Homo sapiens: one gene and its partners. The protein of the gene in region 1 interacts with the protein of each later gene in a pairwise test. Each region holds a gene or a part of one and is shown in the gene's direction. Other genes may lie near its edges.

The links.
Region 2: the proteins of KRT27 (region 1) and PPP1R18 interact in binary tests that used the Homo sapiens proteins (3 or more experiments, as listed by UniProt).
Region 3: the proteins of KRT27 (region 1) and SSC5D interact in binary tests that used the Homo sapiens proteins (3 or more experiments, as listed by UniProt).
Region 4: the proteins of KRT27 (region 1) and TNNT1 interact in binary tests that used the Homo sapiens proteins (3 or more experiments, as listed by UniProt).
Region 5: the proteins of KRT27 (region 1) and ARHGEF6 interact in binary tests that used the Homo sapiens proteins (3 or more experiments, as listed by UniProt).
Region 6: the proteins of KRT27 (region 1) and GOLGA1 interact in binary tests that used the Homo sapiens proteins (3 or more experiments, as listed by UniProt).
Region 7: the proteins of KRT27 (region 1) and SMARCC2 interact in binary tests that used the Homo sapiens proteins (3 or more experiments, as listed by UniProt).

Annotation. Positions count from the first base shown.
Region 1 is NC_000017.11:40,776,308-40,779,550, reverse strand, and holds the end of KRT27 (keratin, type I cytoskeletal 27), read left to right. Parts: coding exon 1-49; intron 50-1,818; coding exon 1,819-2,036; intron 2,037-2,248; coding exon 2,249-2,298; intron 2,299-2,412; coding exon 2,413-2,552; 3' UTR 2,553-2,743; downstream 2,744-3,243.
Region 2 is NC_000006.12:30,683,846-30,687,783, reverse strand, and holds the start of PPP1R18 (phostensin), read left to right. Parts: upstream 1-1,138; 5' UTR 1,139-1,737; coding exon of another isoform or gene 1,738-1,765; coding exon 1,766-3,376; intron 3,377-3,938.
Region 3 is NC_000019.10:55,512,436-55,515,935, forward strand, and holds part of SSC5D (soluble scavenger receptor cysteine-rich domain-containing protein SSC5D isoform 1 precursor), read left to right. Parts: intron 1-575; coding exon 576-737; intron 738-3,500.
Region 4 is NC_000019.10:55,132,207-55,135,706, reverse strand, and holds the end of TNNT1 (troponin T, slow skeletal muscle), read left to right. Parts: intron 1-1,502; coding exon 1,503-1,641; intron 1,642-1,779; coding exon 1,780-1,820; intron 1,821-2,746; coding exon 2,747-2,792; 3' UTR 2,793-3,009; downstream 3,010-3,500. UniProt on the Homo sapiens protein: Troponin T is the tropomyosin-binding subunit of troponin, the thin filament regulatory complex which confers calcium-sensitivity to striated muscle actomyosin ATPase activity.
Region 5 is NC_000023.11:136,669,433-136,672,932, reverse strand, and holds part of ARHGEF6 (rho guanine nucleotide exchange factor 6), read left to right. Parts: intron 1-813; coding exon 814-913; intron 914-3,396; coding exon 3,397-3,451; intron 3,452-3,500. UniProt on the Homo sapiens protein: Acts as a RAC1 guanine nucleotide exchange factor (GEF).
Region 6 is NC_000009.12:124,920,584-124,924,083, reverse strand, and holds part of GOLGA1 (golgin subfamily A member 1), read left to right. Parts: intron 1-860; coding exon 861-989; intron 990-2,191; coding exon 2,192-2,361; intron 2,362-2,843; coding exon 2,844-2,955; intron 2,956-3,500. UniProt on the Homo sapiens protein: Involved in vesicular trafficking at the Golgi apparatus level. Involved in endosome-to-Golgi trafficking. Mechanistically, captures transport vesicles arriving from endosomes via the protein TBC1D23.
Region 7 is NC_000012.12:56,179,484-56,182,983, reverse strand, and holds part of SMARCC2 (SWI/SNF complex subunit SMARCC2), read left to right. Parts: intron 1-904; coding exon 905-980; intron 981-1,148; coding exon 1,149-1,280; intron 1,281-1,386; coding exon 1,387-1,502; intron 1,503-1,882; coding exon 1,883-2,007; intron 2,008-3,500. UniProt on the Homo sapiens protein: Involved in transcriptional activation and repression of select genes by chromatin remodeling (alteration of DNA-nucleosome topology).

The DNA of each region.
Region 1 (3,243 bases):
ACGCACTCTTCAAACCCTTGAGATTGAACTTCAGTCCCTCTTAGCAACGGTAAGCGAAAAGTTACAAAACAGATTTGCTTTAGAAATTGAGAAAAAAATAATCGAAGAGAATTTTCTTCCAACATAATTACATATTTTAGTTTTTAACCATTAATTACAGTGCTTGACATAAGACATATTTGCATTTTGCACATGACAATCCTCTTTGCCTACAAAGTATAGCTGGATGCCAATAATTATGAAATATTAGAAATTAGCAAATACAGTCAAGATACTGGAAAAAGAAAATCGTTTTGACTTTGAATCTTCTATCATAAGTCAAAATATCAAAAACCACTCATATGTGGAGGCTAAAAAAGTTGATCTCAGAAGTAGAGAGTGGGATAAGTGCTTACTAGAGCCTGGGAAGGGGATGGGGGGATAGGAAGAGGTTGGTTAAAGGATACAAAATTACAGAGAAATAGGGAGAATCAGTTCAAGTGTTCTATAGTACTGTAGAATGACTACAGTTAAGAATAATTTATTCTATAATTTCTAATAGTTCAAGGAGAGGATTTTGAATGTTCCCAACACACACAAAAAAGATAAATGTTTGGGACCATGGATATGCTAACTGCCCTGATTCTATCACTACACATTGTGTGTTTTGAAATATAATTATGGAACCCCATAAATATATACAATTCTTATGTGTCCATTTAAAAAAAAAGAAAAAAAATCCTACTGCTTAAAGAGAGCAAAAATACATTTGCACCACTCCTAGCTTCATCTAGCATTCCTTTTGGCCACTCAATTAAGAGCACTTACAAGTTCCTTTGTAAGTGGCATAGACAGAGGAAAAGTCGAGGCATGAAGGCTGACTATAAAACTAAACATGTGTAATGATAATCATAACTGCTTTCATTAAGGGTTTGCCCAGCACTTCCGCCCACATGTGAGTCCACAACAACCCCGGGGCATGGGCAGGGCAGACGTTATAACTCATGTCATTATTTCCAAAAGAGGACTCTGAGATTCGAAGAAGTTAAGCAATTCCCACAGTCCCACAGTTGGGTATGAAGGAATCCAGAAGTTCTCTCCAAATTTTCTAACTCCCAAGTCTATACTTTTCCCACTATGGCTAGTAAACCACCAGAGTTTATCCACAGATGAGGCTATGAATGTATATAAAATCAAGACTTTATATAAAAAATACTTGCAGGTGAAAGGATAAGACACTCTCATCTTCATTCCATGTAAAATTGCAGTGAGTGTTCCCTCTGAGTATATCTGTAAACCCATTCAGATTCACAAGCCAATGAATTGAACTACTGTATTTAAAGTCTAAGAAGGTAATTATTTTCTGTGGTTTATTCTACTCATGGAACGTTTATGCGGTTTACTGCAGGATGACTTTTTAATAGAAGAGCTACAATCCTCATAAGACAAGACTGTCACATGGCTAGAAATGAGTAGCAAAGTATAGGCGGACTTCTAGTTGTGGGTAAAGTAGCAAATTGTGCCACACTCTACAAGCACAGGCTATATTGGTGCAGGGGAGGGATCTTTCAGTCTGTGCCCTATGAAGAGACAATTTCATCTTTTTTAGCACACCTGGGCATCTGAGGGACATTCAGCACCAGCTGTGTCATTCTCAAATAGAAAAGTAGTAGGACATTTAATAAAGGCAACAATTAATATTGAAGAAGTGGAATCTTTTGGGTAAATATAATTATTTGCATGATGTAAGGATAATTCTCTTAATTATCTCTTAAATGCTTTGGCTTATTCTAAAACACCGTGACCTTTTCTATTAAACCATGTCTTACCAAACTACAGAAACACTCCCTGGAGTGCTCCTTGACAGAGACCGAGAGTAACTACTGTGCACAGCTGGCACAGATCCAGGCTCAGATCGGGGCCCTGGAGGAGCAGCTGCACCAGGTCAGAACCGAGACCGAGGGCCAGAAGCTCGAGTATGAGCAGCTCCTTGACATCAAGGTCCACCTGGAAAAAGAAATTGAGACCTACTGCCTCCTGATAGATGGAGAAGATGGGTCAGTATTGCCGCCATTGAGAAAACAATTCATTTTTAAGGTTACTAAAGATGATTTGAAATCAAGTACAAAATATCTATGATCTAGATCACGCATAGATAATACTCTTTTAGTGTTATTTCAGAATGCAGTGAATTCCCACCTTAAATCATTATTTTTCAGTTTCCTCAGTAAAACAGAATAATTAATATAAGCGCTCTATACTTTTACAGCTCCTGTTCTAAATCAAAAGGCTATGGAGGCCCAGGAAATCAAACAAAAGGTAAACAAAAGCTGTGTTAGGCATTCAGTGTTTATTTGTATGTGTTTCAAATGATGTTTTATTTCCTATTTATGAATTTGATAAATTCTAAACAGTTTATATGTGGCATTTTAGATTCATCTAAAACCACCATTGTCAAAACAGTTGTTGAAGAGATAGATCCTCGTGGCAAAGTTCTCTCATCCAGAGTTCACACTGTGGAAGAGAAATCCACCAAAGTCAACAACAAGAATGAACAGAGGGTGTCTTCCTGAACTCCAGCCTCTGAGACAGAATGGCCCCCAAATTAAAATACCAAAATGAAGCTAGTTTCCTAAATAAGGGTCCCCTTATTTTTCTGCTTTTCTTCCAATGAATTAAGACAAGTTATTTTTAGAATAGTACCATTTCTTTGGCTTTTTCTCTATGGTGGTGTTTCAATAAAAGTTCTTCCTGTTGCAAGTCATCTTCCCTGGTTCTGGCCAATCTTTGCATTTTAGATATACCCTCCCAAATGGAAGCTGAATTTTGTCTTTAATTTCTTCTGTTTAATTCAACAGTCTTCACAAGTTGGAAGTAAGTTTAATGTGAAAACTAGTTGGAGTCTTTTTGACTTCTCTGTAAAATTTTGTCTCCTTTGTCTCAGTACGAAAAGTACTTACTGAGAACACGCTATGTGCCAGATAACGAGGATAAAACAGTTAATAAGATCCAGTCCCTGAAGTCAATATGCTCATAGATGTAGAAATAAGAACCTGAAGAATCAGAAACAAACTTAAACATAAAGGAAAGGCTATAAGTAGTGATATTTGAAGGTAGAAGGGGAAAAAGAGAGCTGTGAGGACAAGGGTAAGAGGAGAATTCCAGCAGGCATCTAATTCATAATCTTGATCACTCCACCATAACGGTAGGAATTCACAAGTTCTCTCCTTCGTTTTTGCCATCCAAGACTGCAGAGCCATGTGG
Region 2 (3,938 bases), on another chromosome or scaffold:
CAGCTCTGGTAGGGGAGGGAGCATCCAAAACCTCTGGCTTCTGAGCGCCTCTCCTGCCGCCCATCCACAAAGCCCCCCACAGCCTGGCGGCTGCCCTCGACCCCGCAAAACAAAGGACTTCAGAGGCTGGACCTACAGACCCAGATGAGAAGGCAAAAGCGTAGGGAGGAGCGGCAGGAGATGGGAAGGGCGGGCCCCGCTCGGAGCAGCTGCCGCTTCCTCCCAAAGTCCCACGAGGGGCCTGAGTCACGGGCCACCGCCCTGGGTCGGCGAGCTGGGGGAAGGGATCTGGACACCTGGCGTGTCCGGGCGGGAAGCTGGTGAGGGCCCCTGGGGACAGAGCGGAGGACCAGTGGTTGGGGCGAGAAGAGGGCAGTCCCGCAGCGAGTCCCACGCGGGGTGGGAGGGATCTAGGCCCCGCCCTCTCCTCGGCTCCGCCCTGCGCCCCCTTCCCTCTCCTCATTGTCCTTAGACAAAGCGGTCGCCGCCCCCGCCCGGCCCCCTGGTCTCTGTCTCCGTCCCTCCTCCTTTGCTGCCTCTTTCCCTCCTCCTCTCCCTCCCTCCTCCCCTCCCTCCAGTCTCCGGATCTCCCTCGGTCCCTCTCTCCTCCTCTTCCTCTCTCTGGACGCCCGGCTCCTCCGCACCCCCTCCCCCGGGGGTCCCGCGGCCTGTGAGTTGACTGAGGGGCTCAGACTTGGGGAGTGGGTGTCTCCTCGCCCCTGTCCTTGCTCCCGTCCCTGGCCCGGACCTTGGCTGTCTCCTCTTTGTGCCGAGATTGTCAGTCTGTGCGGCTACAGCGGGGTGGAGACGGCCGGCTCTGTCACGGCTTCATGAGAGCGGGGACGGGGCGCAGGACTTGCAGGCGCCGGGGAGAAGAGACATGGAGCCGGCCCTTGGCACTCTGGGGTCGCGTGGGGCAGTCGGTGGGGGAGGCAGGCGGTGGTGACAGGACAGGGTGGGGGTGGACGCCAGGGTTCTGGGAACGCGCTGGCAGCCCTGACGCCCGGGTTCCGAAAGTCTCGGGGGTGGCTATTTCCCCCGACCCGCCTCGGGGGCGGAGTGCGGGGCAGAGGGGTGGGGGCTGGGGAGAGGCGTGGCCCGAGCGGTGCTGGAAGCGGAGCCGGGACCTTTGGGGCCCGCGCTGAGACGCGCCCGGCTGCTGCCGCCGCCCTCCTTTCCCCTCTTCCCTGGTTTCCCTTCTCCTCTAGACCTGTTCGCTCTCCGCCCCTCCTTGCCTCCCCAACACCCCCTCAGGTCCCGTTGCCTCCTGGTCCTTTCAGGGATTCCTGGTCCTTCCTTCCCACACTAGCCTCCCTGGGGTATCGCTGAGGCAGCCTGGCCTGCACCCAGGTTCCCCTCACCCCTGCCACATTTCTCTCTTCTCCCTCACGCCAACTTTCCTTTTCGCCCTTCTCTCTCTTTCTCACATCCTAGAGACGGTCTTTAATACGCATTAACCCTGTGCTGCCACATCTGGCTCCTGCCCTCATTGCCTCCAATCCGGACTCTTCCTCTCACATCACCCCCACCACCCCCAACTTGGGCTCACAACTTCTCTTCACTTTTTCCATTTCCCCAGTTCTCTGCCTTCCGTCTTTCCCTCTGTCCTCATCCTTAGCCCCTCTGCCCTGCTTTGTGTCCCACCTCTCCCCCTCCACTTCCTCTCCTCCCACCCTCAGTCTCACCCCCGGGCTGTCTCACTCTCTGGAGCCTCTCCTTCCTGTTCTCTGTCCCCAGTGCTCCCTACCCTCACCTCAAGACGACCATGGCCACCATCCCAGACTGGAAGCTACAGCTGCTAGCCCGGCGCCGGCAGGAGGAGGCGTCCGTTCGAGGCCGAGAGAAAGCAGAACGGGAGCGCCTGTCCCAGATGCCAGCCTGGAAACGAGGGCTCCTGGAGCGCCGCCGGGCCAAGCTTGGGCTGTCCCCTGGGGAGCCTAGCCCTGTGCTAGGGACTGTAGAGGCTGGACCTCCAGACCCGGATGAGTCTGCGGTCCTTCTGGAGGCCATCGGGCCAGTGCACCAGAACCGATTCATCCGGCAGGAGCGGCAGCAGCAGCAGCAGCAACAACAACGGAGTGAAGAGCTGCTAGCAGAGAGAAAGCCTGGGCCTCTGGAGGCCCGGGAGCGGAGACCCAGCCCTGGGGAGATGCGGGATCAGAGCCCCAAGGGAAGAGAGTCAAGAGAAGAGAGACTAAGTCCGAGGGAGACCAGAGAGAGGAGGCTGGGGATAGGGGGAGCCCAAGAGTTGAGCCTGAGGCCTCTGGAGGCTCGGGACTGGAGGCAAAGCCCAGGAGAGGTGGGAGACAGGAGCTCCCGACTGTCAGAGGCATGGAAATGGAGGCTGAGTCCTGGAGAAACTCCAGAGCGGAGTCTGAGACTAGCAGAGTCTCGAGAGCAAAGCCCCAGGAGAAAAGAGGTGGAAAGTAGACTGAGCCCAGGGGAATCTGCCTACCAGAAGTTGGGCCTGACAGAGGCCCATAAATGGAGACCTGACTCCAGAGAGTCTCAGGAACAGAGTTTGGTACAACTGGAGGCAACAGAGTGGAGGCTGAGGTCAGGAGAAGAAAGACAAGACTACTCGGAAGAATGTGGGAGAAAAGAAGAGTGGCCAGTTCCAGGGGTAGCTCCAAAAGAGACTGCAGAGCTGTCCGAGACCCTGACAAGGGAGGCCCAAGGCAACAGTTCCGCAGGAGTGGAGGCAGCAGAGCAGAGGCCTGTGGAAGATGGCGAGAGGGGCATGAAGCCAACAGAAGGGTGGAAATGGACCCTGAACTCCGGGAAGGCTCGAGAATGGACACCCAGGGACATAGAGGCTCAAACTCAGAAACCAGAACCTCCAGAGTCAGCAGAGAAGCTTCTGGAATCTCCCGGTGTGGAGGCTGGAGAAGGGGAGGCTGAGAAGGAGGAGGCGGGGGCTCAGGGCAGGCCTCTGAGAGCCCTGCAGAACTGCTGCTCTGTGCCCTCCCCCCTCCCACCAGAGGACGCTGGGACTGGAGGCCTGAGACAGCAGGAAGAGGAAGCAGTGGAGCTCCAGCCCCCACCACCAGCCCCTCTGTCTCCCCCACCCCCAGCCCCAACTGCCCCCCAACCTCCTGGGGATCCCCTCATGAGCCGCCTGTTCTATGGGGTGAAGGCAGGGCCAGGGGTGGGGGCCCCCCGCCGCAGTGGACACACCTTCACCGTCAACCCCCGGCGGTCTGTGCCCCCTGCGACCCCAGCCACCCCAACCTCTCCAGCCACAGTTGATGCTGCAGTCCCGGGGGCTGGGAAGAAGCGGTACCCAACTGCCGAGGAGATCTTGGTTCTGGGGGGCTACCTCCGTCTCAGCCGCAGCTGCCTTGCCAAGGGGTCCCCCGAAAGACACCACAAACAGGTAGGGAAGCAGCCAAGCCAGACTTCTTAGAAGTCCACTTGTCAATTTTCTCTGGACTCTGGTCTCTTTCTTTTTTATACCCCTGTTTTCTTGTCTTCCTCTATTCTTTCTTGTTAATTCCTGCCACCACCCTTCCTCGCTCTGCACATACACCCTTCCTTCTCAGAGCCCTCCTTTTCCATTTTGAGCCCAAAAGATCCTGCCCCAGCAAAGGCTGTCTCTGGGTGTGTCTCTTTCAGGGTGTGCCAGGCTGCTCATTCTCCCTTCCCTTGGGCTCTGAGTTTCCAACCCCCTTTTCTTTCCTTCCTTTCCTGAGTGTGACCTGCCCCAGCCCATCCAGTGGGAGAGCCTAAAGTGACGAGCTTGAATCAGTGAGGGCAGGGTCACCAGGGTGAGAGCACTTGCAGTTTTTCTGGGGAGAAGGGATAGGGAGCCTGGGGTGGTGGAGGGGGTGGGGTGGGTTTGTGTTCTAGGGAGAAACTGCAGGGAGAAGTGAATGGAGAAAGGTCCAACTGCCCCGTGGGAAGGAGGGCAGAGCTGAATAGGGACATCCTAGGATGGA
Region 3 (3,500 bases), on another chromosome or scaffold:
TTTTCCCCCGCTAGGGCAGGAGCCTTGAGGAATTAAAATAATAAATTCCTTTTTTTTTTTTTTTGAGGCGGTGTCTCGCTCTGTCACCCAGGCAGGAGTGCAGTGGCACAGTCTTGGCTCACTGCAACCTCTGTCTCCCAGGTTCAAGTGATTCTCCTGTCTCAGCCTCCCGAGTAGCTGGGATTATAGGCGTGTGCCACCATACCCAGCTAATTTTTTGTATATTTAGTGCAGATGGGGTTTCTCCATGTTGGCCAGGCTGGTCTTGAGCTCCTGACCTCAAGTGATCTGCCTGCCTCAGCCTCCCAAAGTGCTGGGATTACAAGCTTGAGCCACGGCGCCAGGCCCAAATGCCCTTCATTTTATGTGCTAGTTTAGTGACCGTTTCCGTCGTTGGTAGCCAAAAACATCCCAGCTGAATGGAGAAGGTCTCCACGAGGTCAGGTAGGGCTGCAGTGGCGGTGCAGTTGAGACGGGATGATGCCTGAACTGGGGCTGGCCCAGGAGGAGAGAGACGGGGAGTCAAACTCAAAGGGAAGTTGGAAGACTCAATCCTCTTCCCCATATCTCTCTAGGCAGCAAAGATGGTTACAAGCTTCCCTGGACGTGGGACACACCATCAGGAAGGGGCCTGGCTGAGGGGACCCCTACCGCAGGCAAACTAGGACCAACTCTTGGGGCTGGCACCACCAGGAGCCCAGGCAGTCCTCCAACTCTGAGAGTCCATGGAGACACAGGTGAGACACGTGGCTGGGGTGAGGAGACTGGGACGGTATTTGTCCTGGGGTAAAGAGACAGATTCCAGACTCCCCACTGGAACCCTTACCCCAGAAAGACTCAGCAGAAATATACCCTAAAACAAAGGGTTATCGGCTGAGCATGGTGGCTCATGCCTGTAATCACAGCACTTTGGGAGGCCGAGTTGGGAGGATTGCTTAAGCTCGGGAGTTTGAGAGCAGCCTGGGCAACATGGTGAGCCCCCCAAGATATGAACATTAGCTGGGTGTGGTGGTACGCACGTGTGGTCCCAGCTGCTTGGGAGGCTGAGGCAGGAGGATCCCTTGAGCCTGGGTGCTCGAGGCTGTGGTTGTGCCACTGTATTCCAGCCTGGGTGCCAGAGCGAGACCTTGTCTCAAATAAAGACAAAAACAGAACCAAGAGGTTATTATCTAGACCGCTGGTCATCAACTAGGGTCGATTTTGCCCCCAAGGGGAATTTGGCAATATCTGAAGATATTTTGGATTGTCATGGCAGGAAGTGAGAGGCTACCCATTGGCACCTGATCGGTAGAGGCCGGGGTGGTGATAAACATTCACAATGCACACGACATTCCCCATAACAAAGAACCACCCAGCCCTAAATTACAATAGTACCGAGGTTGAGAAACCCCAGCCTAGATGGCATAAGTCACTGTGACAAATAGGAAAATGATAGGAAACCCTAGATGAGAAAGAGGAAAACAGGTGATTCCCAGAAAAGGAAGCCCAAATGGCTGAGTGTATTTAGAAATGCCCACGCTCATCAGGAACCAGAAAATACAAATTAAAACAATGGCAAGTACAGAGGAGAATGAGAAAGGTGGGTATTATCCAGTGTGAGTGAGGATGTGGGAAGACAGGCAACCCCACTGGACAGAGCTGTTTGATAAAGACAATCCAGCAGTATTTAGTAAAGTTAAGCATGATTAGGCTGGCTGCAATGGCTGACGCCTGTAATCCCAGCACTTTGGGAGGCTGAGGCGGGCAGATCACGAGGTCAGGAGATCGAGACCATCCTGGCTAACACGGTGAAACCCTGTCTTTACTAACAATACAAAAAATTAGCCAGGCGTGGTGGTAGGCACCTATGGTCCCAGCTACTCGGGAGGCTGAGGCAGGAGAATGGCGTGAACCCAGGAGGCAGAGCTTGCAGTGAGCCGAGATTGCGCCACTGCACTCCAGCCTGGGCAACAGAGTGAGACTCTGTCTCAAAATAATAATAATAATAATAATAATAATAATAATAATAATAATAATAATAATAGGTGTGGTGGCAGGCGCCTGTAATCCCAGCTACTCGGGAGGCTGAGGCAGGAGAACTGCTTGAACCTGGGAGGCGGAGGTTGCAGTGAGCTGAGATCGCACCACTGCACTCCAGCCTGGGCAACAGAGAAAGACTCTGTTAAAAAAAAAAAAAAAAGAGAGAGAGAGAAGAAGGGAGGAAGGGAGAAAGGAGGGAAGGAAATCTGCATGAGCTCCATGACGTAGATCTATAATTTTGCCCATTTCTCAGATGAGTGAAATTGAGGCACAGACATCAGTGACTCTGACATCAATAATTATTAGAGTGCTTATTCCATGCTAGACATTACACTAAGTGCTTTGCACAACCATGGTCTCCCTGAGTCCTTTTGACAGCTCTGCAAGGGAGATACGCGGATCATCCACAGTCTATAGCTGAGGAAGAAACTGAGATTCAAGCAGTGAAGTAACTTGGCCGTGGTCACCCCGCTAGGAAGCCATGCAGCTGGGGTTTAAACTCGGACAGCCTGCCTTGAGCACAAGCCCTTTACTTAACCGCTTCTCCAATCCTGCAAACAAAGGACAAGGTGGGGAAGGGATGCGCCTGAAAGACCCTGCCCTGCAGGAACAAGTGGAAATCTGTAGATCTGTGTGGTTCAATACGGTAGCTAAGAGCACCGGGCATGGTGGCTCACGCCTGAAATTCCAGCACTTTGGGAGGCTGAGGCAGGCAGATCACCTGAGGTCGGGGGTTCAAGACTAGCCTGAACAACATAGTGAAACCCCATCTCTACTAAAAATACAAAAAAATTAGCTGGGCATGGTGGCACATGCCTGTCATCCCAGCTACTCAGGAAGTGGACACAGGAGAATCACTTGAACCCAGGAGGCGGAGATTGCAGCGAGCCAAGATCGCGCCACTGCACTCCAGCCTGGGCAACAGGAGTGAAACTCCGTCTCAAAAAAAAAAAAAAAAAAAAAGTTAAATGAATTAACACTTTGAAAATGAAACATTTGCCGGGCGCAGTGGCCACGCCTGTAATCCCAGCACTTTGGGAGGCCGAAGCGGGCGGATCACGAGGTCAGGAGATCGCGACCGTCCTGGCTAACACAGTGAAACCCCATCTCTACTAAAAATACAAAAAATTAGCAGGACATGGTGGCGAGCGCCTGTAGTCCCAGCTTCTCGGGAGGCTGAGGCAGGAGAATGGCATGAACCTGGGAGGCAAAGCTGGCAGTGAGGCGAGATCGTGCCACTGCACTCTAACCTGGGCGACAGAGTGAGACTCCGTCTCAAAAAAAAAAATAAAATAAAATAAAAGAAAATGAAACATTTAGTTTCTCATTCACACTGGCCGCATTTCAAGGGCTTGGTAGCCACATGTGGCCAGTGGCTACTGTATTGGCACGGTAGATCACAGCGCATTCCCATCACTGCAGATGTGAGATTTCATTGCCTAGACTCTATGTGCAAACAACTTGGGTTCAAGTCTTAGCCC
Region 4 (3,500 bases), on another chromosome or scaffold:
AAAAATACAAAAATTAGCCGGGCGTGGTGGCAGGCGCCTGTAATCCCAGCTACTCTGGAGGCTGAGGCAGGAGAATCACTGAACCCAGGAGGCGGAGGTTGCGGTGAGCCGAGATGGCACCACTGCACTCCAGCCTGGGCGACATGAGCGAAACTCTGTCTTAAAAAAAAAAAAAAAAAAAGGCTGAGGTGAGAGGATCACTAGAGCCTGAGAGGTTGAGACTGCGGTGAGCTGTGATGGTGTCACTGCACTCCAGCCTGGGTGACAAAGTGAGACCCTATCAAAAAAAAAAGAAAAGAAAGAAAAGAAGGAAGGAAGGAAGGAAGGAAAGGTAGGTTTTAGTCCAGGGCTGGTATGGCAATTCTACAAAATCAGAGACCAGACTCCTATGTTTTCTGCTTCACTCACTACTTTTAGCCCAATATTTCCATCCTCAAAATCACTTAGTCCAATATAGCTGCTAGCTCCAGCCTCACATGGATGATCCAAGCAGCAGAAAGAAGACGCAAGAGAAGAGCCACACAGTCTCTTTTGGAAGCCGCACCCAGTGACCTGCTTTCGTCTGAGTAGCCACCCCTACCTGCAAGGGAGATTGGGCAAAGTAGTTTTTCAACTCAGCCTAATGCACAAGAGGCTATTTCTAGAAGAAAGGGAGAAGGGCTAACAGGTAGGCAAGCAGCCATCTCTTCCACAGTTTTATTTCCATATTTTCTAGAGAAGGAAACAGGATTCTAAAGGAAGTCATGTGACATATTCATAAACCAGAGAATGGCATGGCTGGGAATTGAACCAGGGGCTTCTAACTGCAGAGCCTGGGCTCGGTCTTTTCTTTCTTCCTTTTCTTTCCCCTCTCCCCTCCCCTCCCTTCCCCTCGTCTCCCCTCCCCTCCCCTCCCCTCGTCTCCCCTCCCCTCCCTCCCTCCCCTTCTTCTTCCCTCCTCTCCCCTCCCCTCTTCTCCTCTCCCCTCCCCTCTTCTCCTCTCCCCTCCCCTCTTCTCCTCTCCCCTCCCCTCCCCACTTTCCTTTCTCCTTTTCTTTCCTTTCTTTTGTCTTGCTCTGTTGCCAGGCAGGAATACAGTGGTGCAATCACAGCTCACTGCAGCTTTGACCTCCCAGGTTCCTTCTGCCTCAGCCTCCCAAGTAGCCGGAAACACCCTGCCTGGCTAATTTTTTTAATTATTTTTAGCAGAGACGGGGTCTCTCTTTGTTGCCCAGGCTGGTCTTGAACTCCTGGGCTCAAGTGTTCTGCTGGCCTCTGCCTCCCAAAGTGCTGGGATTACAGGTGCCGAGCCTGGTCTCTTAATCATGACACCCTTCTCTCCCCTTGGGAAATGCGAGAGCTCCAGCTCGGATGTGGAGAAAGTGGGCACAGATTTTAAAACTCTCGGCCTCAAATATGAACAAAATGGTGCCGACAACGCTGAACTCACAGTCTCGCTGTGTGGCTTTGGGTGGTTCCCACAACCTCTCTGGGCCCAAGTTCCTCTCCGTCCCTGGGCCTAGGGCCCGGTCTGCCTGGCTGCCTCCATCACAGCCCTCCTGCCCTGCCAGGGAGAAAGCCCAGGAGCTGTCGGACTGGATCCACCAGCTGGAGTCTGAGAAGTTCGACCTGATGGCGAAGCTGAAACAGCAGAAATATGAGGTGAGACCCAGCTCCGCAGGGAGGGAGGGAGAGAGGGCAGGGCTGGGCTGGGAGGGACCAGCAAACTCCAGGCAGGGGTGGGTGGCCCGTCCCCACGTCCCCACCGGCTGTCCCAGCATCTGTCTTCTGCCTCCGCAGATCAACGTGCTGTACAACCGCATCAGCCACGCCCAGAAGTTGTGAGTGTGACCGTCTCAAGCCCTTGCTCTTGTCCCTACCCTCCCGCTGACTCTCAGGCCTCTTTCCCTCCCTCTGTGGGCTCCATCCCCCACTGCCTGAGTTTCTGCCCCTTTCTCTTTGTCCTTCCTTCTCTGTCCTCCTCTCTCTGCTCTCGGAATCCTGGGTCTCAGTTCCTTTTTCTTTTTCTTTCTTTTTTTTTTTTTTTATTGAGACTGCGTCTCGCTCTGTCACCCAGGCTGGAGTGCAGTGGAGTGATCTCAGCTCACTGCAACTTCCATCTCCCGGGTTCAAGCGATTCTCCTGCCTCAGCCCCCTGAGTAGCTGGGATTACAGGTGCGCGCCACCAAGCGTGGCTAATTTTTGTATTTTTAGTAGAGACGGGGTTTCACCATGTTGGTCAGGCTGGTCTCGAACTCCTGACCTCGTGATCCACCCGCCTTGGCCTCCTAAAGTGCTGGGATTACAGGCGTGAGCCACCGCGCCCAGCCGAGAGGGTCTTCCCTGAATCTCTCTGTTTCTCCACTCCCTCTTCCTTCCTCCCTCCTCTCCCTCTCCCTTCTCCTCTTCTCCCATTTCCTGTCTCTTTCACCCCAGCCCTTCCTGCGTGTTACCCACCCATGCCCAGATCATCCAACCCTTCCTCCCCCCACCCTGGCCCCTGACTCATAAACATTCATCAGCTCCCCCATGAACACCCTGCACTCGCCCCCAAATATCAGCTCCCACATGTCAGCGAGGCTTTGACCACCAGCCGCTGCCCCCCAGTCATAGAACCCAAAAGAGGTGACAGTTGTTTTGCTCACTGCTTCCTCTGGGCAGGGAGGGCTAATATTTTGGGGAATGGGCTTCCTGAATTGAGGGCCTGGGGCCCATTTCAGAGACTGGAGGGGCCCCTTTTTCCTGATACCACCTCATTCTTCTACAGCCGGAAGGGGGCAGGGAAGGGCCGCGTTGGAGGCCGCTGGAAGTGAGGATGCCGCCCCGGACAGTGGCACCTGGGAAGCCTGGGAGTGTTTGTCCCATCGGTAGCTTGAAATAAACGCTCCCCTCAGACACCCGCTGGGTTCTCTGATGTTATTATGGTTGAGATGCAGCTGGTCTCTCCTGGTTAATTGACTTCTTATTACCAACAAGTTACTTGAAAGAGTGTCACCAATAATCATTAAAGTACGGCAGGCTGAACCTTCACACACTGCTGGTGGGAATGGAAAATGCAACAGCTTTGCAAGCAGCCTGGCGGTTCCTCAACAAGTGAAAGCATTTCTGCAGGACCCAGCAGTTCCCCTCCTGGATGTATATCCAAGAGAACCAAGAACCTTTGTCCACACAAAAGCTTGTACATGAATGTTCATAGTAGCATTTTTATTTTTAATTTTTAGAGACAGGGTCTTGCTCTGTCGCCCAGGCTGCAGTGCAGTGGCGTGATCACGGCTCACTGCAGCCTTGAATTCCTGGGCTCAAGTGATCCTCCCACAACAGCCTCTGAAAGTGTTGGGATTTTAGGTGTGAATCACTGCACCGGCCGCAGCATCTTTTTTTTTTTTTTTTTTTGAGATGGAGTCTTGCTCTGTCACCCAGCCTGGAGTGCAGTGGCATGATCTCGGCTCACCGCAACCTCCACCTCCCGGGTTCAAGCAATTTTCCTGTCTCAGCCTCCCAAGCAGCTGGGACTACAGGTG
Region 5 (3,500 bases), on another chromosome or scaffold:
AAGGGGAGGTGGTCAAGTGAAGGCAGTGAGTGTGCACACCTCTGAAGGAACTTGGCCTAGAAGAGAGGAAGCCAGTGGCTCAGGGAGACCCAAGATTAAGCACTTGAGCTCTGAGAGGGAGGATCCAGAGTGAGGGAGGTGCAGGAGAGCTGTTTGGTTGGGCCCCCATGCCTGTTCTGTCACCTCTTCTGTCCCAGAGCCTGGAGACATTCTGGGCAGAGGACACCTACATCTTTGCTGATGATGTGATAATCTCCAAACCTCACTCCACCCTTGATGAAAATGGTCTTAGGAGACATACCTACCTTACCCTATAAGACTGTAAAGAGAACAAATGGGGGTGATGATGCTTCTGAGGCCCTTTAAGCACATTGTGTTTCAGTGCAGTGCTACTGTCAACCTTTTACTACAATGACAAAACACTGTAGCATAGGATGTAGTGTGTCCTTCCTTGGAGATTTGCAGGGAAGAGTGATCACTGGTCAGCTCTTTGCTCTGGAGGAGGCAAAACAGGAAAGAATGGAGGTCTTGGTTGTGGACAGGTATTACAGGGGCTCTTTTGCATTATTTTTCTGAATACAAAATGCTTCCCACCTCGGGAAGATTGAATCAGTGTATTTGGCCATTTAGAATTTCTCATGTCAGGAAAATTTAGTCAGCAAATGATGGGTGACTGTCCTCTGGGTGTAATGTAGCAACATGCTATGAACAAAGACCCTTCTGTAACAATAGTGGAAAAGAACTAACACCCACTATTTCTACTCTTCACTAGTAACTCTCCCTCCTCCCCCATCTTGCAACCCTTGTTTGTAGGTACTCGAAAAGATTCCATTCCACAAGTCCTACTCCCTGAGGAAGAGAAACTCATCATTGAAGAAACCAGAAGCAACGGCCAGACCATCATGGAAGAAAAGTGAGTAGAGCAGGCAAAACCTTGCCTAGTTTCTCTTGGGGCTGGCAAGAAGGTCTGGTAGGACGGGGAGCTCCTGGAGAGTCTATGATGAGGGACAACTCCTCCTTACCTGGGAATGCGGCCTGCTTTGCTGTGCATGCATTTGGGAGACTTTAGAGGGCTGCCCACTAACAAATGGAAAGAGGAAGGAAAAGCAGCGGTGACAGAGCCCTCCAAGGCAGCTCCAGCTGGCAGCTGCCCCTGCAGCCAGCTCCCCATCCAGTAAGCTGCTTCTGAGCACATGGGAATATCAATGCCCTGGATGGGTTTAGGAAGTGGCTGGGAATTCCAGCCACAGAACCAATTTCCTTGCCCGGAGAGATGCCACTCACATGTTTTGAGTCAGAAGCTGTGCTTTCACATTTTTGACATCATTTAAAATCCTACAGCAATCCGGTTAGATAAACATTACTCTCACCACTTTCACAGATAAAGAAACTGAGGTACAGGAAGTTCAGGGAAATTATGTCTCTGACTTACCTTTACACAGTAGTGTGGGTGACCTAATGGGGGAAAATCAGGTTAAGTACCTTCTGGCTCATAAAATTAACACAAAGTAGCCAAATAATTCATTTGTCTAAACTTGAGTCATTTCTGAAGTCAGGCCTAAATTTGCATAGGACAGCATATTTCAAGGTGCTTGGCATTGTCAATGCATTTTACATCTGATGTGTGAAGTGATACAGCAAAATGGTTAAGTACTTGGGCTCAAGCAAAAAACAGTGTGGTTCAACTCCCACTTCTGCTACTCATTAGCTGTGTGACCTGGGGCAAGTTGCTTCACCTCTCTGTGCCTCAGTTTCCTCATCTGTAAAATAAGGATGACGGTAATGCTTTCAGAGTTGTTGTGAGGTTAAGTGAAATAAGTATAAAGGCTAGCTCAATAAATAATGTTAGTTAATTCTTATTATAACGATATTCATTTTTACAACTTTGTGAGGTTTTCAGAAAATGTGCTATTATCCCCATTTTACATGTAAAGAAACTAAGACCAAGAGAGGATGAGAAGGAAACTGGTTCCCAGAGAACAGAGGACTAGTAAGTGGCAGGATCAGAACCAAAACTTAGATCTCCAAAATCTTTGTCCAGGGAGAGACCCAGAGAGGAAAAGGCTGTTCTGCAACCCAGTAATTACCAAAAAATTACTTTTTTGGGTACTGTATGGTTGAGATATTCCAGAAAGAATGCCTCTGACTTTGTGTCATGTGCAGTCAGAGAACTGGGAAGGGCAATGTCATAGCACAGATACTGTAGACTAGGCAATCTTGTGATACCTCTCATTATATGATAGGTGATGTTCATTCCTGCCCCAAAGCTAGAGAAATCAAAACCTTATGACGGGAATTGAAAACGTCGAACTCCTAAAAACAGAGAGCAGAATGGTAGTTTCTAGGGACTGAGGGGAAAGGGGAAATGGGGAGATGTTGGTCAAAGGGTACCAAATCTCAGGTATGCAGGATGAATAAGTTCTGGAGAACTAATGTACAGCATGTTGACTACAGTTGGCCCTCTGCATGCGTGGGCTCTGCATCTGTGGATTCAACCAACCCCAGATCAAAAAGATATTCAGAAAAAAATGGATGGTTGCATCTGTATTGAACATGTACAGATTTTTTTCATACCTAGTAAAGTTTTTCTTTTTCCGCCTTTGTTGAGGGATAATTGACAAAGGTGTACAATGTGATGTCTTGATATATGTATGCACTGTTATACCATATTGTTTTTTCCTAAGAAATATGGTATAACAAATATTTGCATAGCATTTACATTGTATTAGGTATGATAAGTAATCTAGATATGATTTAAAGTGTATGGGAAGATGTGCATTGGTTATATGCAAATACTATGCCATTTTATGTTAAGGACTTGAGCATCTGTGGATTTTGGTATCCATGGGGGTCCTTGAACCAATACCCCATGGATACCGAGGGAGGGAAGACTGCATAGTTTACAATGGAGTATACTTGAAGTTTGCTAAGAGTGTAGATTTCCACCACACACATACAAAAGGTAACTATGTGAGGAGATGGATATGTTAATTAGCTTGATTATGGTAACCACTTCACAATGTATACATATATCAAGACATCACATTGTACAGCTTTGTCAATTATCCCTCAACAAAGCTAGAAAAAGAAAAACTTAGTGACGGGCCCTAGTCTCTTGTGTTTTGTTCACCCAAGCTGGGAAGTGAGTAGAAAAGGAGGAGGGAAGTATAGAAAAGGTGTAATGACATTGCATTTAGCTAAGCATGTGTGGTGGTGGTTGTTCTTCCATCAAAGTCAAGAAGATGGAAACCATTTAGAGCAGTACCATTCCCAATCAGCTAGAAAGTCCACTGTTTTTCAGGATCTGTATTTTTATAAAGTGGCTTTTATTGTTAAGTATTTTAACAGTACCTCAGTGCAAGCCATTTGTCTCTGAATTTTATCTTTATTTTCTAGGAGCCTTGTTGATACTGTTTACGCCTTGAAGGACGAGGTCAGAGAACTGAAGCAGGTAATAAAATATAAAATCATTTTCTCGGGTAATAGAACCATTCTCTTTT
Region 6 (3,500 bases), on another chromosome or scaffold:
AGGAGTTCGAGACCAGCCTGGCAAACATGGTGAAACCTCATCTCTGCTAAAAGTAGAAAAATTAGCCGGGCATGGTGGTGCATGCCTGTAGTCTCAGGTACTCAGGAAGCTGAGGCATGAAAATCACTTCAACCTGGGAGGCAGAGGATGCAGTAAGCTGAGATCTCACCACTGCAAACCAACCTGGGCAACAGAGTGAGACTCTGTGTCAAAAAACAAACAACAACGACGAAAGAGTAGACACATAAAATATATATCTGGACTTGCTAAACAGATGTAAGAACTTTAAAGTTCTACATAGGCCATGCACGATGGCTCATATCTATCAACACTTTGAGAGGCTGAGGCAGGAGAATGTCTTGAGGCCAGGAGTTCAAGATCAGCCTGGATAACAGAGCAAGATCCTGTCTCTACCAAAAAAAAAAAAAAGTTCTACGTAATTGTTGCTTTTATTCCCCTTTTTCACAATTATTTAAAACACATTTATTTTTAAATAAAGAATTAAATTCTCTAGTTAAAGGATTAATTCAATTAAAGAATTTGTAAATAATGCCATATTTCTGTAATGCTTTCCATTATCAATGCATCATTGTCCACTGGCATGAGATTTCCTGAAGATTTTTCCTTTATTAAGAATTCCACTTTCAGGCCGGGTGTGGTGGCTCATGTCTGTAATCTTAGCACTTTGGGAGGCCAAGGCGGGAGGATTGCATGAGCCCAGGAGTTCAAGGCCAGCCTGGGCAACTAGTGAGACTCTGTCTCTAAAGACAAAAATTTTAAAAAAGAAAAGATTTTCACTTTCGTAATACAGATTTCTAATGCTTTCGTTGCCTGAGTTGATGTCTTCTTCTTTCAAATAGGAGAAAAATATTCTGACAGCCCAGTTACAGGAAATGAAGAACCAGAGTATGAATCTTTTCCAAAGGAGAGATGAAATGGATGAATTAGAGGGGTTCCAGCAGCAGGAACTAAGTAAAATAAAGCACATGGTATGCATTTTTGTTTTAGTAGCTAAATACTGAATAGATGATTATTCACTCTGATTTTACTAGTCATCACTCTCTAATTGCTGATAAACATACACCAGTAATATGTGATATTAATCATATTTGATATTAATCATATTTGTATGTTTTTAAATTTATTAAAATAGAAAAGTTCTGTTTAAAATGTTCTTTTTCTGTTTTGTTTTGGGTTTTGTTTTGTTTTGTTTTGTTTTGTTTTTAACTACTGGGTATATAAATTCTCTTATAAGCCCACAAAAATGTTATAGAAATTTGGCTATTGGTCCACATTTTTTTTTTTAAATAGATGGAGTCTCACGGTGTTGCCCAGGCTGGAGTATAATGGCTACTCACAGGTGCGATCATAGCACACTGCAGCCTCAAATTCGTGGGCTCAAGCTGTCCTCCCACTTTAGCCTCCCAAGTAACTGGAACTGTAAGCATGTACTGTAGGTGTGTGCCACCATGCCTGACAAGCTTAGATTTTTTTTTTTCTTTCCTTTCTTTCTTTCTTTTTTTTTTTTTTTTTGAGATAGAGTCTCACTCTGTCACCCAAGCTGGAGTGCAGTGGCATGATCATGGCCCACTGCAGCCTCGACCTCCCAGACTCAAGGGATTCTTCCACCTAAGCCTCCCGAGTAGCTGGGACTACAGGCGCACTACCATGCCCGGCTAATTTTTGTATTTTTTGTAGAGGTGGTGTTTCGCCATGTTACCCAGGCTGCTCTCAAACTCCTGGGCTTAAACGATATGCATGCCTCAACCTCCCAAAATGGTGGGATTACAGGCGTGAGCCACCGTATCCAGCCGAGATTTAAGTGTATTTTTCTTTTTTACTTCTTTTTTTTTTTTGAGATGGAGCCTAGCTCTGTCACCCAGGCTGGAGTGCAGTGGCGCGATCTTGGCTAATTGCAACCTCCACCTCCCGGGTTCAAGTGATTCTCCCGCCTCAGCCTCCCGAGTAGCTGGGATTACAGGCACCCGCCACCACGCCCGGCTAATGTTTGTATTTTTAGTAGAGATAGGGTTTTGCCATGTCAGCAAGGCTGGTCTCAAACTCCTGACCTCAAGTGATCCACCTGCCTCAGCCTCCCAAAGTGTTGGGATTACAGGCGTGAGCCAGCATGCCTGATCTTAAGTGTATTTTTCTTAGCATAGCCCAATGAAACTTTGTATTTTTGTGTCAGCTTTTAAAAAAAGAAGAAAGTCTAGGGAAAATGGAACAAGAATTGGAGGCACGAACCAGAGAACTTAGTCGTACCCAGGAGGAGTTGATGAACTCCAATCAGATGTCATCAGACTTAAGCCAGAAGCTAGAAGAATTGCAGAGACACTACTCAACGCTGGAAGAGCAGAGGTTCTTGCTTGGTCTGTGGGGCCCTTGGGAAGAGGTGTTAGTGTAGTTCTGGCTATAGCCTGCCCACCTTTCCCCATTGTTCATTACACCACTTTCTGATTCCGGTGCTGGCAAAGGCTTCTGGACACATCCTTACCTGCCTAGGACTCAGGCCTCACCCTACCTCCAACCCATTTTCCCCTTCAGCTGCTGAAACTCAGGACAGTTCCACCCTGCTGAACAATTCAGTGTGGTTTTAGTTTGTAAAGTATTAATAGACTAAGGAAAGGCAGGTCAGGATTTCTTTCTTAAACTAGGGTGGACTTTTTCTCTTTGGGCTCCTGCTTCAGAGAGAGCCGAGGCTTTTTCCGTTGAAAACCTGCATGTGGCTAATGATGCTTGTAGCCCTGACACAGAAGAAACCATTTGTATTTTTCCTGCAGAAGACTGTATATTAGATGAGATATCCAAATTTGTTCATTGTCTGCTTTCTTTTGATGAAGAGATCATGTGATAGCTTCAAAAACAGGTGCAGAAAGTAAGATCACAGCCCTGGAACAAAAGGAACAAGAGCTCCAAGCACTCATTCAGCAGCTTTCCATTGATTTGCAAAAGGTAAGTAGAATATGAGGAGAAGACCTGGATTTCTAAGATTCATAAAAACTAATTCTTTCAGAAATTTCTGCCTGAGAGTAGCTACTGAACATACATTTCTCATGCAGTCCACATGGCTCCATTTCCTGTACTAGCCAGGCTGCACTCAGATGGAAATGGCCATACAGCTGAACAAGGGTTGCTTAGCAGAAGTAGTCAGTATTTTCCTGTCAGGAATTCTCAAAGTACACCATTTGGTCGACTCAAATATGTCTCTCTTTTTTTTTTTTTTTTCTTTTTTTTTGGGACAGAGTCTTGCTCTTGTCGCCCAGGTATTATAGGCGCCCGCCACCACACCCGGCTAATTTTTGTATTTTTAGTAGAGACAGGGTTTTACCATGTTGGCCAGGCTGGTCTCAAACTCCTGACCTCGTGATCCACCAACCTCGGCCTCCCAAAGTGCTGAGATTACAGGCGTGAGCCACCGTGCCTGGCCTGACTCAAATATGTCTTTAAGCACATAATGGACCTTGAGCATGAAAAATACAATAGTGGCTGACATGACC
Region 7 (3,500 bases), on another chromosome or scaffold:
CATGCACCTGTAGTCCTAGCTACTTGGGGGGCTGAGGTGGGAGGATTGCTTGAGCCCAGGAGGTTGAGTCTGCATTGTGCCATGATTGCACCACTGCACTTCAACCTGGGCAATAGAGCAAGACCCTGTCTCAAAAAAAAAAAGCATGTAAAATATCATCTAGTATGGTTATGATTATGTAAAAACATCATCTAGTATGGTTATGATTATGTAAAAAGAAAATTGTGGACCAGGCACAGTAGCTCACTCCTATAATACTAGCACTTTGGGAAGCCAAGGCAGGAGGATCACTAAAGGCTGGAAGTTCAAGACCAGCCTAGGCAGCAAAGTGAGACCCTGTCTTAACAAAAACAAAAACCCCAGCTGGACGCGGTGTCTCATGCCTGTAATCCCAGCACTTTGAGAGGCCGAGGTGGGTGGATCACGAGGTCAGGAGCTTGAGACCAGCCTGGCCAAGATGGTGAAACCCCGTCTGTACTAAAAATATAAAAATTAGCCGGGCGCAGTGGCAGGCACCTGTAATCCCAGCTACTCGGGAGGCTGAGGCAGGAGAATCGCTTGAACCCGGGAGGCGGAGGTTGCAGTGAGCCGAGATCGCGCCACTGCACTCCAACCTGGGTGACAGAGCAAGAGCAAGACTCTGTATCAAAAAAAAAAAAAAATTACTGTGGAGGAAAAACAGATATACAAGTATCAAGAGTAGTTACGTAAGGGTGATTCTTTTTGTTCTCTATTTTTGAAATGTTTCGTAATGTGCTTTTACTACTTTATAATGAATAGAATACAAAAAAAATAAGCCAAGAACCCAATACTTTCTGTAAATGGAAAGGGTAAAAGATCTGCACTTTACTTTTCCACAATTCTATCCCATTGATTCTACTGTGTGCTCAATTTCCCATGGCAGTTACGACACGTGGATCCCAGCGAGTGAAATTGAGGCATCTGTGGAAGATGCTCCAACTCCTGAGAAACCTAGGAAGGTGAGCTTTTCTTGTATCCCCTCTTCCCCAAAAAGAATGCCAGGAACAGTCTACCCTTTGGAAGTGAAACAGAGGCTTGTATGCCCTTGAGCTTTTTCTGTTAAGGGTCCCCAGACAGAGCTGTGGCTTCCAGGCTTCTCTGCAGCATGATCTGCCTTTGTACTTTAGGTTCATGCAAAGTGGATCCTGGACACCGACACCTTCAATGAATGGATGAATGAGGAAGACTATGAAGTAAATGATGACAAAAACCCTGTCTCCCGCCGAAAGAAGATTTCAGCCAAGACACTGACAGATGAGGTGACAAATCCTGTTCTTTTTTTCCTGGCGCCCTTAGCATAAGTCTCAGAACAAATCTTCAGTGGGGATTGTAGGCTGACATTTGTCCTGATTCTCCATCCTATAGGTGAACAGCCCAGATTCAGATCGACGGGACAAGAAGGGGGGAAACTATAAGAAGAGGAAGCGCTCCCCCTCTCCTTCACCAACCCCAGAAGCAAAGAAGAAAAATGCTAAGAAAGGGTGTGCCAGCCCCTAGCCTGCCCCCGTGTTCACCATTCTCTCCACATCATGTTGAAGGAAGGAAAGACAAATCCCTTCCTATAACCACCTGGCCCTGACCTGGGTGTGCCATAATACTGCAGGTGTCCTGAGAGGGAAGATGAGGAGATCTTTAGCTGCTCAGTTGTTAGTTCTGGTTCTGGCCCCACTAGTACATTTAAAGAGAGCTTTATCAAGTGAAAAGCCTTTGCCACTTCCCATTACTGTGTGATTACTGGTTTCTGTTTGTACTCAGCTCTACCCTTGGAATTCTCTGTCACTTCCCTTCCCTTGAACTTCAACTTCCAGGGACTCCTTGTCCAAGGATGACTGGGTTCTCTTTCACTCTCTTTCCTTCCCAGTCCCTCAACACCTTACACTAAGTCAAAGCGTGGCCACAGAGAAGAGGAGCAAGAAGACCTGACAAAGGACATGGACGAGCCCTCACCAGTCCCCAATGTAGAAGAGGTGACACTTCCCAAAACAGGTACAGGCCAGGCTGAGCTCCTGGGATCCACCCCCACTCCCCGTCTTGACTCTCCTTTGCCAAACCCCAAGTGAGCTGATTTCTCAGGTCCACCTCCCAGTCTACAGGATCTTTTCCTTAAATTTAGCTGGTTATTGGAATTACGGTCATTACCCTGGAAAATCCTCTAACTGTATATTCATATCTGAGTTGTGGACTGTGCTTTGTGCCTGATAGTAGTTGTCTCCAAACTCTTTGATTATGTGTTTCTGACAGTAAAATATATTTGAGCATGGCCAGGCACGGTGGCTTATGACTGTAATCCCAGCATTTTGGGAGGCCGAGGCGGGCGGATCACCTGAGGTCAGGAATTCGAGACCAGCCTGGCCAACATGGTGAAACCCCATCTCTACTAAAAATACAAAAATTAGCTGGGCGTGGTGGTGGGCACCTGTAATCCCAGCTACTCGGGAGACCGAGGCAGGAGAATTGCTTGAACCTGGGAGGTAGAGGTTGCAGGGAGCCGAGATTGTACCACTGCACTCCAGCCTGGGCGACAAGAGCAAAACTCCATCTCAAAAAAAAAAAGGGCCGGGCACGGTGGCTCATGCCTGTAATCCCAGCACTTTGGCAGGCCGAGGTGGGCGGATCACGAGGTCAGGAGATCGAGACCATCCTGGCTAACATGGTGAAACCCTGTCTATACCAAAAATACAAAAAAATTAGCTGAGCGTGGTGGCGGGTGCCTGTAGTCCTAGCTACTCAGGAGGCTGAGGCAGGAGAATGGCGTGAACCTGGGAGGCGGAGCTTGCAGTGAGCTGAGATCACGCCACTGCACTCCAGCCTGGGCAACAGGGCGAGACTCCATCTCAAATAAAAAAAAAGAAAAAAAAATGTATATATGCATTAATTATGTACTTGTACTGTTAAGCCGCTACCATGGGAACGTTTTAAAACACAAACATATCTAAAAAATTGAAAAATGTAAAGAATGATAAAAACAAACATGAAGAATCAGGGCGCGGTGGCTTACGCCTGTAATCCCAGCACTTTGGGAGGCCGAGGCAGGCGGATCACGAGGTCAAGAGATCAAGACCATCCTGGCTAACACGGTGAAACCCCATCTTTACGAAAAATACAAAAATTTGCCAGGCGTGGTGGTGGGCGCCTGTAATCCTAGCTATTCGGGAGGCTGAGGCAGGAGAATCACTTGAATCTGGGAGGTGGAGGTTGCAGTGAGCCGAGATCGCACCACTGCACTCCAGCCTGGGCGACAGAGCGAGACTCCGTCTCAAAAAAACAAAACAAAAAACATGAAGAGAAGTTCTGTATTCTCTCCCTGAGTTGCAGTGGATCATCTTTTGCGTCCTATGTTAGAACCCCACTTTGGAGACATTGCTCCACCAATACTGGTTTACAGTCTGTATTCTGTAGACTCACCCCAGGTATTCCAGAAGTGTATTTCAGGGGTAGGATTAGGGCTGCCACCAAGAAGAGTTCTGGCTTCTACCTCC